Linked DNA regions of Homo sapiens: all the other regions are linked to region 4. The links come from fine-mapping of genetic effects on gene expression. A gene starts in region 4. Each other region holds a variant in brackets. All regions are shown on one strand. Distances are from middle to middle. Region 1 overlaps SPECC1 (sperm antigen with calponin homology and coiled-coil domains 1). Region 2 overlaps SPECC1 (sperm antigen with calponin homology and coiled-coil domains 1). Region 3 overlaps AKAP10 (A-kinase anchoring protein 10). Region 4 holds the start of SPECC1 (sperm antigen with calponin homology and coiled-coil domains 1).

Evidence for each region. PIP is the estimated chance that this variant, and not a neighbour inherited with it, causes the effect.
Region 1: its variant is fine-mapped to the expression of SPECC1 in whole blood (TOPMed, PIP 0.93).
Region 2: its variant is fine-mapped to the expression of SPECC1 in whole blood (TOPMed, PIP above 0.99).
Region 3: its variant is fine-mapped to the expression of SPECC1 in esophagus muscle (GTEx, PIP above 0.99).

Annotation. Positions count from the first base shown.
Region 1 is chr17:20,071,486-20,075,649 of GRCh38, forward strand. The region is part of intron 1 of SPECC1 (sperm antigen with calponin homology and coiled-coil domains 1); the gene reads left to right. Among named protein-coding and RNA genes, the nearest start is that of SPECC1, 64 kb to the left of the region's middle. RefSeq lists an enhancer at 2,110-2,329. The variant G/A (reference allele first, on the strand shown) is at 1,765.
Region 2 is chr17:20,046,852-20,051,015 of GRCh38, forward strand. All of the region lies in intron 1 of SPECC1 (sperm antigen with calponin homology and coiled-coil domains 1), which reads left to right. Among named protein-coding and RNA genes, the nearest start is that of SPECC1, 40 kb to the left of the region's middle. The variant G/A (reference allele first, on the strand shown) is at 2,341.
Region 3 is chr17:19,943,003-19,947,166 of GRCh38, forward strand. All of the region lies in intron 5 of AKAP10 (A-kinase anchoring protein 10), which reads right to left. Among named protein-coding and RNA genes, the nearest start is that of AKAP10, 33 kb to the right of the region's middle. The variant T/C (reference allele first, on the strand shown) is at 2,135.
Region 4 is chr17:20,007,573-20,011,736 of GRCh38, forward strand. SPECC1 (sperm antigen with calponin homology and coiled-coil domains 1) reads left to right here and starts at 1,787. Exons shown (of 15, transcript NM_001243439.2): 1 at 1,787-1,852. SPECC1-DT (SPECC1 divergent transcript) reads right to left here and starts at 1,688. Exons shown (of 1, transcript NR_186461.1): 1 at 483-1,688. RefSeq lists an enhancer at 589-1,156 and silencers at 1,589-2,258, 2,279-2,458.

The DNA.
Region 1 (4,164 bases), 64 kb after region 4:
ACAATTTTATAAATAATTTTCTTCATATTTCTAATCTGATTAGAATTTTTATTGGAATTACAACACATTTATAAAATTGTTTGCAGAGAATGAATATCCGTTGGGAGAGCATGGTATGCTTTTCATCCAGTCTTCTTTTTTGTCATTCAGTAAAGCATGAATTTGGGGGGCGACTGTAACTTTCTTACCAGGTTTATTTATAGATGCTATTGTAAGTAGGATTTTTTTTAACGTGATAACTTATTTAGGTATATTATTTTATTATACAGTTGAATACATACTTATTTTAGAAAATTTAGAAGCTACAATGTGAATTTAAAAAGTAAATGACACTCAGTCTGAGAGATAAGCACTGTTAACATTTTGTGTGTATCTTTCTATTAATAGATTTACAGTCTAATGAGGGAAGTAAGACATGATCACATGAAAGGCTTAATAATCTGAGACACTATTGAGTGACTAGCTTGTACTTTTTTTCTGCCTAGCCTTTTTTCTCCTTTTGGAAACTGCTTTTCCCATAACTAGTGGAGCTGCCAATCATCCAGGTCCCTCTCCACGGCCAATGGGTTGGACAGTGTATCACCTCAGGCTCTTTTCTGGGAGAGACTCTCTAATCTGGAATCTCAAATGCTAAAGACCTCTAGTCTTGCAGTGCTGCTGGGCAAGGCCTTCCTATCCTCAGAGCACCTGTGTTTGAATGATACCAGCTTAGGAGAGTGAAGCTACGAGGTGATTCAAAACCATTCCTGATGACATCATTGGACCTCATGGTCTAGAGCTGGCTTAAAGCCAGCCTGAATTCATCCTAGACTTTCCTAAATCAGTAAAGCCAACAAACTCACCATTTTGCTTAAGCAAAATTGAGTTAGGTGTCTGTCATTTGCAGAGTCCCAACCACTACCACCTCCTGTGTCTGTGCCATGGTGCCACATGGGGAGTCACCCAGATGAGTTAGGACCCTGTATGCCCCTTGCCCCCCAGGAGAGTGGGTGTTCCTCAGTAAGAGCAGGTTCAGTGCATTGTGCCTGTTGTCTCCTTCAAGGCAAAGCTGGATGGCCATGAGAGGCAGCAGCCTTGGCCAGGTGGGGCATGGGGCTGCCGTGCCAGGCCAGGCCGGCTCTGAACTCCTTACTGCACTCTGTCCATTAGAATGACAGAGTCTGAGTATGGAGGTTAGAATTATAGTGAACATGGGGGATTCTATGTCACAGAGGCTCTGCAAACCCATGCCACCTGCTATATAAGAGCTCTCTGCCATGCAAGAGCAGACTGGCTGCCTTCCACACCTATTATCCAGTAAAATAGCAATTAAAATGCAGCTTGTGGCAATGACTAAGCTTAGCCCAGGCCCGCTGATAGAGTTCTTGGTGCCTGTGGATATAACACATGTTGCTTGTTTACCTTCACAACATTTCTTCGGTGTTTTTTTCTGGGCAGTGTATTTGGTCCCTGTTGCAGTAGATCCCATTGTCACTGGGGCTTACTCTAGGCCATCCGTAGTAGCAGGGAACGTGGACCCCAGGCTTTGTGAGGATGCCCATATCATTTTGGAGCTCCCTGAATTCAAAATTAAGTATGAAAAGATTTATTTAGAACGAAAAAAAATTGCAACAAATTATTGGAGCCTAGGAGTTTCCGATGCCTACCTTTGAGATCCCTTTAGTTGGCTCACCAGAAGCCCCTGCTGTGATATGCTTCCTGGTTGTAGCCCGACTTCCCCTTCCCACCTAGAACTCACAGTGTTCACAGGGTCATGGCAAGGTG[G/A]TGGGGCGTGGCTGAAGCTTCAGGGTAAATCCATTTGTGAAGAGCAGACTGAGTTTTTGTTTTTGTTTTTAAATCTGTTTGATATCTCAGGGAGCAGTCAGCAGCTAGCCAGCCTACATCTTGAAACCCTTACATTTTGGAGAGGTACAAATTAAGCATTGAGGACCAAGTAGGATGGAAATATGATTTTGCACTTTGTGCATGTATGCATGTAAGAAAGAGAAGAGAGAGAGAGATTGTGAGAGGCAGGAGAGAGACGGGGAGAGGCCATCAGAACTTGGGGAGAGCAGAGCCCGCCTGCTTCCTGAGTGAAGCATTGCTCAAGCGCTCTCTGCCCGGCCCCCTCCGAGTGTGGTTTTCCTCCCAGGCCAGCACCAAACCCAGAATAGAGTGGCTGACTTGCTGATTGAGGTCGGCAGCTCCCGAGAAGCAGGAGAAGCAGAGTTTTTGCAGTAAGTACATCGTTGGTTATTATTTAAGACAGAGATGGAAAATCTTAGGATAGCTGGGGAAGAGGTGCTTCTGCTTTAGGTACAATGTCTTACAGACCCAGTGGATCTTGGTGTGACTAAGGCAGTGTGAATACATTCTCCCGTGGTGCATGGACTGGATAAGTTAATGCCACATGCATGATTTTGGGGGGCTGAAAAAGGATTTGAAACCCACCTTTTGACGTGTTGAAAGAAAATGATCTTTTCTCACTTGTTTTATCTTGCAAGGAAAGGATGATTAATGCCAACTTCAAGTTAATATATGAAGTTCTTTAGAAAAGAAGCCCTGTGGGTACTAATTAGTAGCAGCGTGGAGATTATTTTCCCATCCAGGGTGAATAGGGCTGCTTCTGTGCATTCCTTTTGCCAAGTGTGGGATGTCTAAGGTCCTGTGGAGAGAACCGCCCACTCGACTAGTGCTTAGCCCCTGGAACGTTCTCGAGTCATCTCCCCTTGGAGGAGATCAGCACTGTAGTGTGCCCTGTCGTCTGGCAGAGGGTCTGATAATGTCGCAATGCTCAACATCTGGGCAATACATACATTGTGTTAGGGTCTGAAATGAGATGTTTGTGAAGCCCAGATGGCAGAGTTTCAAGCAATAATATGATAAAGTTGGTGGCTTTTCTGGGAAGTTATTTATTATATGGTTACTTGAGATTGTTTTTCCCCCACATCCCATCACAGGGCTGAAGATACCTTAAAATCTCTCTTACCCACTCTATTTTCTAGAAATTAAGTTTTTGCTTTTTATTTCCTTGTCCCACTGACTCTAATTTCCTATAGGTATAAAATGTTTAGCTCAGCGGTGCAGAAGGTCCACACTAAGTTTTCTTGGGAAATGTGGCTTCCACCCCTTCTCGATAGAATGCTAAGGTGCTGCTCTAGCTGCAGAACTCACTGGTGTGGCTGCTTCTGCTCCTTTACAGCTCAGCTCCATGGACTCTGTGTCTCTGTGGTTCTGTTTTAGAGTAGCCGTGTTTCACTTCCTTTAACCTTTCCTTTACCAAGTGAGTTAACATGGAAGCCTGTCTAAACAGAGGAGCCCCCAAGGCAGGAGAGGGGGTGCAAAATAAGCAATACTAAACTTTCATTTGAAAACCTGGAATTTGAAATAAACCACCACCTGTGAAGTATCATTCCTCATTCCAATTTTATTTTTCCAATATGTTATTTTTTTTTTAGACAGAGCCTTGCTGTTGTCACCCAGGCTGGAGTGCAGTGTCTTGATCTCGGCTTACTGCAACCTCTGCCTCCCAGGTTCAAGTGATTCTCCTGTCATAGCCTCCCGAGTAGCTGAGACTACAGGCGCATGCCATCACACCCAGCTAATTTTTGTATTTTTAGTAAAGACAACATTTCAGCATGTTGTCCAGGCTGGCCTCAAACTCCTGACCTTAGGCGATCCACCTGCCTTGGCCTCCCAAAGTGCTGGGATTATAGGCGTGAGCCCCCACACCTGGCCCCAATACATTAACATTTTTTTAAATGATCTAAGTAATTTTGAGCTCTCACTGTACAACATCATCTCATTTGATTCTCCCAGCAGCCCCATGAGGTAGCTACCTTTTTGGTCTTCACTTAATAGCTGAGGATGTGGAGGCCTAGAGAGGTCAGAGAGATGGGTGGGCAGGTAGGTGAGTGGTGCAGCCAGGATGGGAACTCAAGTCTGTCTCAATCCAGAGCTCATGCTCTGATACGGCATTTCAGTAAATTCAGAAATTGGAGAAAATAGTGACTTAATCCCACACTTTAAAGCAACTGTTAAAATTTCTGGATTTTTTGCTGGGTGCAGTGGCTTGCACCTGAAATCCCAGCTACTCAGGAGGAGAAGAAGGAGGATTGCTTGAGACCAGGAGTTCGAGAACAGCCTGGGAAACATAGCAAGGCCACTGTCTCCAAAATTTTGTAA
Region 2 (4,164 bases), 39 kb after region 4:
ATCCGGAGGGCACGTGGGGTGGGGGGTGGGAAGGGCTTTGTAGACCAGTGCGCACTGGAGGGCTCTGACTTGGGTGTTGATGTGGTCACTCTGCTATGCTGAGAGCAGACTCCAGGGGACAAGACTGGGAGGAGGGAAAGGTGCTGACTATTGCAGGAAAGCCGGGCGAGAGATGTTGGTAGATGGGACCAGACTGATTTGAAGCTATGAAGTTCCCATTAATGAGCACATTAAGTACATTTAACTTTCAGTGGGCTGGATTAGGACTACATTTTTCTTAAGGATTCTTGAGTATGAGAATGCTTGTGTTCTTTCATGTTGTAAATGCTTGTGTTCTTTCATGTCTTTCATGGCTTTTGCAGCCTTTAAATAATGCGTGACATTCTAACTTGGTAAAGATGTGTTGGGTCACTTTCTCTCCCTTCTGGCTCAGTAGGCAGCATTCTTTTGTCTTCAGACTCCAGTGTTCTGGAGAAGACTGCAGATGGTCTGCCTTTTTCCGCATTATGGGTCACCCACTTCTTTCTCTGTGTTGGTAGAATCACCAGCCTTGCTAGATGTGTCTTGTGCTGGTTGGACTCTACTGATTTTTCTTGGCATATGCTAAACCCTTTCAAGCTATAGATTCAGTTACTCAATTTCAGGAAAGTTTTCCGGTGTTATATCTTAAATTTTCTTTTCCTGTGCCATTTGTTTTGTTCTGTTCAGAATTAGCAGTTGTGTGTCTGTTGGATCTTTATCTCTCGTATCTAACTTTTTTTTTTGAGATGGAGTCTCACTCTGTCACCCAGGCTGGAGTGCAGTGGCGTGATCTCGGCTCACTGCAAGCTCCGTCTCCCAGGTTCATGCCATTCTCCTGCCTCAGTCTCCCGAGTAGTTGGGACTACAGGTGCCTGCCACCACGCCTGGCTAATTTTTTGTATTTTTAGTAGAGATGGGGTTTCACCGTGTTAGCCAGGATGGTCTCGATCTCCTGACCCTGTGGTCCCCCCGCCTCAGCCTCTAACATCTTTTTAATCACTTTTATGGATTTCCTATATTCCATTTCCCCAAATGAATGTCCGCTTTCACTGACTTCTTCAGCAATTCCACTTCACTTCTTACCCTTCTTCACGTAATGTTCATCAGATAATGGTGTTAGTGCTTTTCTCCATTGGTGTCCTTGACTCATCCGTTACCTTCCTTCAGTAAGGAGCAGGGCCCACAGGGAAGGATATTCCTTGCTTTAACCTCTCACTAAGCTGAGATAAATTTGAATACGGCTCAAGATCTAGAGAAATGAGTCTTTTTTTTTTTTTTTGAGACAGAGTCTTGCTCTGTCACCCAGGCTGGAGTGCAGTGGCGTGATCTCGGCTCACTGCAAGCTCCGCTTCCTGGGTTCACGCCATTCTCCTGCCTCAGCTTCCCAAGTAGCTGGGACTACAGGCACCTGCCACCACGCCCGGCTAATTTTTTGTATTTTTAGTAGAGACTGGGTTTCACTGTGTTAGCCAGTATGGTCTCAATCTCCTGACCTCGTGATCTGTCCGCCTCGGCCTCCCAAAGTGCTGGGATTACAGGTGTGAGCCACTGCGCCCAGCCGAGAAGTGAGTCTTGATTCTTGTCATCTTCCCTCGATTTTGTTCAGCAAATTCCTGTCTCAGAAATAGCCTTTGTGTTTGTTGCTCAGGGTTGAGGCCCTTCTCTACTTTCATTATAGGTTGAATTTCCTTCTCTGTTTTGACTTTAATAGAAGGGGAGAGTAGATATTTTTTCTTTTGTAAGAATTCCCAGGGCCAGGCGCGGTGGCTCACGCCTGTAATCCCAGCACTTTGGAGCCTGAGGTGGGTGGATTGCTTGAGCCTAGGAGTTTGACATTAGCCTGGGCAACATAGTGAGACCCTGTATATACAAAAATTAGCATGATGGCACGTGCCTGTAGTCCCAGCTACTCAGGAGGCTGAGGTGGGAGGATTGCTTGAACCCAGGAGGTCGAGGCTGCAGTCAGCTGAGATCATACCATGGCATTCCAGCCTGGATGACAGAGTGAGACCCTGTCTCAGAAAAGAAAAAAAAAAATTCCCAGACATATCGCTTAAAAATTATCTTTTGTGAAAAATAATATATTACAGTATATAAAATTCAACATGTTTAACGGGGAAGGAGGGAAAAGAAGATTATCTTCTGCCCCTGTCCCTTAGCTCCCAGTTCCCAGCCCCAGGAAGCACAACCATATAGAACACATTCCTAGAGTGGAATTGCTTTGTCAAAGGATATATGCACTTGTACATTTGATAGACGCTGCCAGATTGCTTTCCATAGAAGCCATCAGTATATATATGCTATCAGCAAAAAATGAGA[G/A]TGCCAGTCTCCTCACATTCTCACCAACATGATGATGTTTGAAGTTTTTCAAATTTTTGCCATTCTAATAGGTAAAATAGATTTGAAAGTTTTATTTTGCATTTCCTGTTAATACAGGTGGTTGAGGAGCCAGGTGCGGTGGGGCACACCTGTAGTCCTGGTACTATCATTTGAGCCCAGGAGTTTGAGCCTAACCTGGGCAACATCGTGAGACCCTGTCTCTCAAAAAATAAATAAGTAAAAGTCAGTCTGAGCATCTTATGTGCCGAAGAGCCATTTGTATTCTCTGTGAACTACCTGTTCATTACCTGTCACATTTTTATTTTGGGTTAGTGGTGGTTTTTTTGTTGGGTTTATATAGGTACTCTTTATGTGTAGGAAAATTAACTCTGTCTGGATATGAGTCAAGTTTTGTTTTCCCAGTTCATTCAGCTATGATTATTTAGCTGTGTTTGTGCTATGTTTTAGGCATGTAGAAAGATTTGGTTTGTATGTAGGTGATTTTCTCTTTTATAACTTCAGGGTTTTTATATTATAGGCATTCCCCATCCTAAGAGTCCGAGGATTCTACGGTGTTTTCTTCTGCTAATTATACTATTTTCATTTTTTTCTTTTCTTTCTTTATTTTTATTTATTTATTAATTTTTTTGAGTTGAAGTTTTGCTCTTGTTGCCCAGGCTGGAGTGCAATATCTCAGCTCACCGCAACCTGTGCCTCCCAGATTAAAGCTATTCTCCTGCCTCAGCCTCCCAAGTAGCTGGGATTACAGGCATGTGCCACCATGCCTGGCTAATTTTGTATTTTTAGTAGAGATGGGGTTTCTCCATGTTGCTCAGGCTGGTCTCGAACTCCCGACCTCAGGTGATCTGCCCACCTTGGCCTCCCAAAGTGCTGGGATTACAGGTGTGAGCCACCGCCCCTGGCCAATTTTTTTCTTTTAAATATTTGGTGCTCCTCACCAACATGGCACATGTATACCTATGTAATAAACCTGCATGTTGTGCACACGTACCCTAGAACTTAAAACTATAATTAAAATAAATAAATATTTGGTGCTCCTTCAGTTACTCCTGGTGTTAGGAGTAAGGTAGGGTGCCCAACTGTGTTTTTCCTGATGCCTATCCTGCTGTCTGAACACCATTTGTTGGTTCCTTTGGAATACTAGATTTATCGTATATTAAATTCCTGTATATGTTTGAACCTAATTCTTGGTCTAGTCCATGTCTGTTTGTCTATTCATGTACCAATATCAAACCTTTTAAAATTTAGGCTTAAAATATTTTTTAAAATGCAAATTCAATAAAATCATTTTGGAGAGAAGTCTTATTGGAATATTTCAGTAGTTCCTTCACAGTAAGATGTTGTAGATCATTCTTCTGAGCACAATCTGCTATTCATTGTTAGGGCATGTGTTTAGTTACCTACTTTGAATTGATTTTGCTGAAAGAAGTAAGGATTCTTGGGTGGTCTTTCTATATTCTCCTACCCTGGCTCCTTGGTAATGTGGAAAATGAATTTTCAGGTAAAATTGTCAGAGGACAGTAGGATGGTTTTTGTTCTGGAGTATATTAACATGAACTGGCCCAACTTAGGCTCACATTTGATAACTTCATGTTAGTAAGCATCCTCCTTTGGTTAAATAAACTGGCTGTGGATATTCTCCAGGGAAAAAGTTACTAGTAACTCTTAGAAAACTAATGCATACATGAGCTGGTAAAGAGGAACTTCTTAAAGCACAATTTTAGAGTTATAGAAGCATATATTTGTTGTTATGATCTTGCAAGTTTGCTAACTGCTTTACTGAAAATAGCGTGCATGGAAAAA
Region 3 (4,164 bases), 65 kb before region 4:
ATCCTCAGCCTTCTGAGTAGCTGAGACTACAGACAAGAGCTATTACGCCTGGCCAATTTTTAAATTTTTTGTAAGGGGGTCTCACTATGTTGACCAGGCTGGTTTTGATCTCATGGCCTGAAACGATCCTCCTGCCTCAGCCTCCCAAAGTGCTGGGATTACAGGCCTGAGACATTGCAACTGGCCTTTAGCCAGTTTCTTAGCATACAGCGCCTAAAATTCATGGAATCTCTGGATTCTTTTGAAGGCTAATGAGATGACTTGTGGCTGTGGCCTCTAAAGAGCTTTAGGATGAGGGCTAATCACCAGAAAGACCAAGGCAGAATTACACGTTTGGGACTTTCAGCCCTACCCACCAACCTCCCGGGATGAGGGGGCTGAAGGTTGAGCTGATCACCAATAGCCAATGATCAATCATGCCTATATAATGAAGTCTCCACAAAAAACCCAAAAGGACAGAATGGGGAGGGGGGCTTCTGAATAGCTAAATCTGTAGAGGTTCTTGGAGGGTGGCATGACCTGGAGAGTGCATGGAAGCTCTGTGCCCCTCTCCCATACCTTGCCCATGCATCTCTTCCATCTGCCTGTTCAATCTGTATCCTTTGTAATATCCTTTATAATAAATGGGTAAATATATGTAAAGCATTTCCCTGAGTTCTGAGAGCTGCTCTAGCAAATTTATTGAACCCAAGGAGGGGACTGTGGGAACTCCAATTTATAGAAGGTCAGTCAGAAGCACAGGCCACAACTTGTACTTGAGACTGGCATCTGAAGTGGAGGCAGTCTTGTGGGACAGAGTCCTCAATCTGTGGGATCTGATGCTATCTCCAGGTAAACAGTGTGAGAACTGAACTGACTTAGAGGACACCCAGTTGGTGTTCACTGAACAATCATCTGCAGAATTGGTAGCTGACAGGGAAAAAACCCCACACAACTAGAGTCATGGAAGGGTTCTGTTTTGTGAGAGTTCAGAAGGAGAAACTGAGTTTTTTTTTTTTCTACAGTACATCTCCTTTCTCAAATATTTAACACCTCTTCTATTCTCTTTGCTGAGGACTTTGCTTCCTGCTTCCTTGAGAATATAGAAGCAATCAGAAAATTATTTCCATCATCTCTCACATCTTTCAACTCACCTGCATCTCTACCCGTGTACTGCATTCTTTCCTGTGACTCTAGATAAATTGTCCTTGCTCCCATCTAAGCAATCTTCTATGTGAGCACTGGAATTCATCCCTTCTGCCTCCAGACTTCTTTCCTGTAACAACTGTCCCCTCTCCTACATCAACTTCTCCTTCACTACTGCCTCATTCCTATCAGCTGTGTGGACTGCATGTTTATATATATACCTGTTTGTATGCTATAACACACTTTATATGCTTATATATATGCCTGTAACCTCAGCACTTTGGGAGGCCAAGGTGAGTAGATCATGAGGTCAGGAGATGGAGACCATCCTGGCCAACACGGTGAAACCCCGTTTCTACTAAAATACAAAAAAAAAAATTAGCCAGGCGTGGTGGCGAGCGCCTGTAGTCCCAGCTACTTGGGAGGCTGAGGCAGGGGAATCGCTTGAACCCAGGAGGCGGAGGTTGCCGTGAGCCAAGATCACGCCACTGCACTCCAGCCTGGCGAGAGTGAGACTCCGTCTCAAAAACAAACAAACAAACAAACAAAAAATGCAGTCATGCTTTATTCCTTTTTTTCCCTCTCATACCACTCACTTCCAAACCATCAGCAAATTCTGTCAGCTGTACCTTCAAAGTTTTTAAAAATTCTACCACTTCAAACATTTGTGGAAGATGAAGGAGGTAGTGCAAGTATAGATTCTGGATCACTCTAAATCCTCACATAAAAACAGTAATTAGTTAGCAACACCAAAAATCCAAGGATTACATTTAAAACAAGACTATGCAAAGTGGGTACACAGTAAGAGCTAAAGTGAAGGCTCCTTTGAACAAAACTCACTTGAAGGACAGCTATATTAAAATAGTCCAACTGCAAGAGGAGACAAATAATTTGGACAGGATTAAGAATGGGGCTCAAGGAGGAAAAATGACTTGCCTAAAGCCACACAGGTAATTAACATCCTAAAATATATAATGATAGACACTGGGATAGAGGTTTTCTCAAATTC[T/C]TTGATCACAAAATGTTATCAACTTGATCCTTCAGAAGACTTTTCCTTCATGGGATTACATCATCATTAATTTGATTAAGCTTAAGTAAAAGAAAGAGAGTTGCAGTGTGGTTTCATTTTAAGTGTTTTATTTGACTTGAAACTGCTTCCTTTTTATCCACACGCCAGTCAGGCTATTAACTGGTACAGACTCCCCTCAAAAAAAAATCACTAGCCAACCAATTCTTCAAACAGGCAAACTCTAATCAGTCAGAACATCCCTGTTGTATTACTAGGAAAAGCTGGTCTAGGGATGATGATAGTAGCAAATTCCCACATAAAAATAGAGCAACAACACAGAAAACCTCAAATCTCATGACAACATCTGTCAGCAAAACTCAGTGAAACAGTACCCCTTAAATACAAGCAGATAGGGATAAGCCACCAACAGCCACCAGGCCTATGTTATAGCCGTTATAGGTATCTGTGTGGGAGAAAGAAAAGGAAAATGGAGCCAACATGACATGGACCCCAGAATAGCTAACTGGAAGGTACAGTGGGCCAATTTAAGAAACACAGCTGAGACTAACAGGGGTCTTGCTGTCCCCAGCAGTGAGTGAGTGCAAAGCACCCACACTAAGGATTAAAGAAGCCCAACATCGGGACAGATCTGCTAAAAGTGCAAGAACATGTCTTATTTCATAAATCACAAATACTAACTTTTTTGAAGAATAAAAATACATAATATTAGGACTTATGAGAATGTAATATTTATTGAATGAATAAATAACCTCTTTTATCTGTGAATATACGTTCACCTAAGGTCTTCCTGATAAAACACAGTAAAAGCTTTCAAACTATTTTGCTATAACCTATAAGAAATATATTTGTTGAATCAGCATACACATACATACATGTATATATAATGAAAACATTTTTCTGAAATGTTTGTCCTTACTACTCTGAGATACTTTGATTTTTTTATTCTAGTATATATATATATACACACACTAATATGTATATTATATATTAGTATATATACTAATATATAATATATACTATATATGCATATATACTAATACATATATTTTATATATATATATATTTTATATATATATATATTATATATATATATATATATATATATATATATATATATATTTTTTTTTTTTTTTTTTTTTTTTGGCAGGGGGTGAGGGCATAAGAGAAGGCTGGTCCCAACCTACAGTATGAAAAACACTGCCACAGCACAGCAGTTAAGGTATGTGAGGGTCTAGTTTCAAATCCTGACTCTGCCATATCTGAGCTGTTACCCTGGACAAAGCACTTAACTTCTCTGTGCTTCAGTTTCTTCATCTATAAAATAACTGTATTTATCCCACAAAGTTCTTTAGAAGTTAAAATGAGTCTATCCATAAAAAGTGCTTGGAATATTGTCTGGGACACAGTGAGTGTTTAATAAATGTGTACTATTTATTGATCTTGCTGTCATTGTTATTCAGGTTAAAGCCTAAGAATTTGGGTCCAACATATAAGAAAAACTTTTTTTTTTTTTTTTTTTTTAAGGTTAGCAAATTGTCTTTATTCAGAAGAATAAAGTTACGTGAAACTGGGACTGGACATGAGGCTGCCCTCCTCCTTGCACCTCCAGCTGTGCCAAATGACACAGAAATGACACTGTGTGTGGCACAATCAACTGGCAAAAAAAGGCAAGTCACAGGCCATGTGATGGCTCTGGCTAATGCAGGTAGACATCCAGGGTGCCCAGGGACGTCAGGCCCACTGAGAAGTGGGATGAAGCCCTGAGACGGAGAGGCCACCACTGAGACACCTGTCTGGCCATCCAGTTGCCCACTGGTCGTGAGACTCTTGGGCTGCAGCCCTGATGCCTAGAGACTTTGGTACCGGCTTTTAGCCTCACTGGACTTCCAACCCCAGAAGTTTCTGTCCCGCCCACTTCGTGCACTGGTGCGGGGCTGCCGGCCAGTCCATCCGGTGGTCTGTGCCGGTTAGCGTAGCCGCCCGCCGGCCCGGCTGCTCAGCAGCGGGCA
Region 4 (4,164 bases):
TTATCAAAATTAACTCTAGAATAATTTTTAAAATGTAAATAATAAAATTGCCACAGAAGAAACTTTTCTAGCCTTAAAAGATTTACCCTCCCCAAAGAAAGCATCAGGCTGGGAGGAACATTTTTAACTGGGAAATGATCAAACCTCAAAGAATAGATAATTTTAATGCTCCTTAAATTGTTCAGAGTAAAAGGAAAAAGCAAACATGCCCATTTTTTTTTCTTTTTTTTTTTTTGTAGAGATGGGGGGGTCTCACTGTGTTTCCTAGACTGGTCTCGAACTTCTGGCCTCAAGCACTCCTCCTGCCTCGGTTCCAAATTTTTTATGATGTGAGCATAACATTGATTCTGAAACCAAACAACATTAGACATTCAAAAAGAAAATTATTGCCCATCTCATTTTTGCATATCAATGCAAAGCCTGTAAATAAAATATTAGCAAACAGAATCAAGCAGTATATTTAAAAAAAAAAGACAAGTTTATTGCAGGGATAAACTGGGTTTTTATTAGGAATTTATTATAACTAGGACTCATTACTTCAATATGAGGAAATCAGCTGTCACCCGGTTTGCTCGTCCTTACAGACATCTCCCTCCTCTTCCTCTCTTCCTTTCCAGTGAAAATGTCTTCAAGTTTCCTCTACCAAACCAAAACTTCACCCCACTTCTTTTATTCTTTCCTCCTCTCTTCTCAGAACAAAGGGGTTGTTGCTGACCAGCCCAGGGTTTCTTATTTGGGGCCGGATCATTCTTCCTTGTGGGGCAGTCCTGTCCTTCAGGTAGGATGTTGAGGAGCACCCTCGTGTCTACCCACTTAGGCAACAGTAGCAACTCCCGCATCATGACAACCAAAAATGTCTCCAGACCTCCCCAAATGTACGCGGGGCGGCGAGGAGGGGCAACACCGGCCCTGGTCGAGAACCGCTAGCCTAGGCTCGCCCCTCTACCTGGGCGCCACAACTTGCCAGGGTTGGTTATTCTCCCTGGATCCTTTCCTTCCTCCTCATTTGAGCTTCACGCCCTCAAGTATGACCAAAGGTTCTGTCATTCCACTCCTGCAGTTTTCATTAAGGTCTTAGGCCACTTCCATGTCAAGAAACACAGTGGCTCTTTCTAACCCCTGGCCATGAGGCACCCCTGGAGGAGGAGCCGTGAGGGTAGGGAAGATGCTGAGGGGGATGTTGACCTTGCCGACTTCCAGGCGCCTCCGCTGCATCCCGGAGGAGGCGTTGGGCGGTGAGGGTGCAGCGGGGGGGCGGGCCCCGCAGGATGAGGTGTCCGTGTGCGGCTAGCGCCACAGGCAAGACCGGGCTCCTTGCGGGGCGGAGGTGAGGCCGTGAGCATAGCTCTCAAACTGGAGGGCGCCTCAGAATCACTTGACGGGCTTGCGAGAATGTGGACTGCTGGGCCCCACCTTCATGGTTTTAGTGCAGGAAAAACCGAATAGGCTGGGTGGGACGGAGAATCTGCATTTTCTCAAGTTCCCAGATGAGGCTGAAGCTGCTGGTCCGGGCACCACCCTTAGAAAACCTCCAGTGTAGAGTGCGGAAATGGGGTCCACATCTGGCTTGGGACGCCCAAACATCGATTATGTGCGACCAGAGGATGAGCAGATAGGGAGATGAGACACTGAGAGCTGGGAGAGAGGGGGCCCCCGGCCGCCGGCTGAAGGAGGACGGCGCAGGCGGCGGTCCGGGTACTACATCTCCCAGCGAGCCCCGCGCGGCTCGCGCTCGCCCCCTGGCGGCGATGGCTGGAGGCGCCGGCGGAGCGCGGGTCCCTCTCCTGAGCATCAGTGAGCGCCCGGAGCCGTGGCCGCTGGGGGTTGCGGCGGCGCTGAGCCAGCGGGGCCGGTGAGTACTAGCCGCGCCGCCAGCCCGCCCGCCGGCCGGCTCTTTGCGCCTCAGCCGCGTGGTCTGAAGGGATGGGCGGGCGAGCGCGGGGGTCCGGCAGTCCGTCGTGGGGGCACGGGACTGCCTTTCTGGGAAGGCGTGCTGCGTCTTCGCCGCGGGGGCCCCGGTCCCCTCGTCGCGTGTCCTGTCCCCAGCCCAGGAGGGACGTCCTGGCCTGTCCTGCCCGGCCCGGAGCGGTGGGACCGGTGCCGCAGGTGGCAGCGGCAGGTGGCCGCCTCCTCCCCTCCGGGCCCGAGGGTTGTCGCAGGGACCCGGGACTGAGAGCCAGGTGGCTCCCGACAGCTGCGGCCCTGGAGGCGACCCCAGCCCTCGCCGCAGTGGGACAGGTGCGCGGGCACGCCCGGCCCCGGCTCCTGGGTCTCGGGAGCCTCCCGCACCCTCCCTGTTGTGCCTTGGGGGTGCTGCGTGGTGCAGAGGACCGAGAAGCCCTTCGCCCTCGGCGTCCGCCGCGCTCCCGCCCCTTCCTGGCCGGGGTGACAGGGGAAGGGCTAGGGCTGCGCATCCCGGGTCAGCTGGGGCGCCGCGGCGCAGTGCACCTGGAAGGCCCGGGGGCAGCGCGCGGTGCCCGTGGGTTTCCCGGTGGTGCGGACCTGCGGGCGTGCGGAAGTAACGACCTCCTTCCCCAGTGCCCATGCAAGGAAATTAGTGTTATGTGCTTGCTTTTTTTTTTTTTTTTTCCTAAGGAAGTTTGACTCTGAATATCTTATTTTGCTGGAGCTCCATTTGCCAGCACGTAAGTTTATGTAATAAGCGGCATACAGTTCGGAAAAAAATTTTCCTGTGAAAGTGCTCTTCCTTGCCCTCTGCAGGAAGAATTACGCCGAGCTGGTTGGCAGGCTTATCCACCAGCAACTGTAGGAGCTGCAGGCAGCAGATAAAGTGTTTTTTGAGTAAGGGCACAAGTCAGCCCTTCAGGACAATTTTTGTTTTTGGAAGATTCTGTTATCCAGTTCCAAACACCGTGTTATTTCAGTGTTGAAGATGGGGGAGGAGGGAGGAGCACAGGCTTGTCAATCCTAATACCTCAACAGAAATTAGCTTTGCAGGATTAACTCTCCAAGCAAGCGAGTTGAATTTGGTAGCCCAAACTACAGCTGAAGCTGAGCCTCCATACTAAAGCCTGTCTCAGTTTTAATAGTTTTTCGCTTGATTCGTTTGCCTCTTCCAAGTAGGTGATCTTATTGTCTGTTAAACAACAGATGTCTCTCATGTTTTTACTTTTTTCCTTGTCTTCCATAGATTACTCTCGCTGCAGTGTTGACTATTGAGGTTAAATAGGAATCTTTGTCTTGGGCTTGGTTTTAGGGAGCATTCCCTCTGTATCTTCACCGAGTGTATTCTATCACATTAAGTACATTTCTGTTTATGCCTAATTACTAAGAGTTTAAAAAGTCAAGGGTGGGTGTTGGGTTTTTTGCCCAAATGCTTTTGTGTAGCATGCATTGATATGATCATGTAGATTTTCGTCTTAAAATTGTTAACATAAGTGGTGGTCACATTGCTAGATTTTCTTTCTCTAAAACCCTGGGCTAATTTAAAATGCACTTTTGGATTGTTCACATCAATAAGCTAGCATCTTATTTAGGGTTTTGGTATCTGAGTTTGGCATATAGTTTACCCCATTTTTATCTGTGTTCATAACAAGGATCAGGCTGTCCTCTCTGATTAAATTGGGAAACTTTCCATCATTTTCTATGCTCTGGAATAGAAGAATTATCTGTTCCCTCAAGTTTGGCAGAACTTGACTGCAGACTGCCTGGGCTGCTGCTGGTGTTGTTTAGGCAGTTAATATCAGTATTTAATTACCTTTTCATTTTTTTCATGATCATTTATTTTTCTCAGTTTTTCTGTTTCTTCAAAGTAAATTTAATATTTTCTGTTTTCCTAGAAAATCATTAACATTATTGAAATTTAATATATGCTAGCATAATGTTGTATATAGTATTCTGGTGTAAGAAAACAGACTCTTACATATCTGTATGTATCTGTATGTTCTCTTTCTGATACAGTACTTTTTTTGGTACCTTTTCTCTTTTTTTTTGATCAGACTTGCTTAATGATTATTTTATTAATCCTTTCAAAGAACCAGCTTTTATTAACCAGGATTTATTGATTAATTCTATTGATTTTTTATTTTTCTATGACATTAATTTCTGTTTTTTATCTTTCTACTTAATTTGAGTTTATTTTGTTCAAGTTTTAACTGTTTGAATGGAAAACCTGGCTCATTTATTTAATCAGTCCTGTGAACA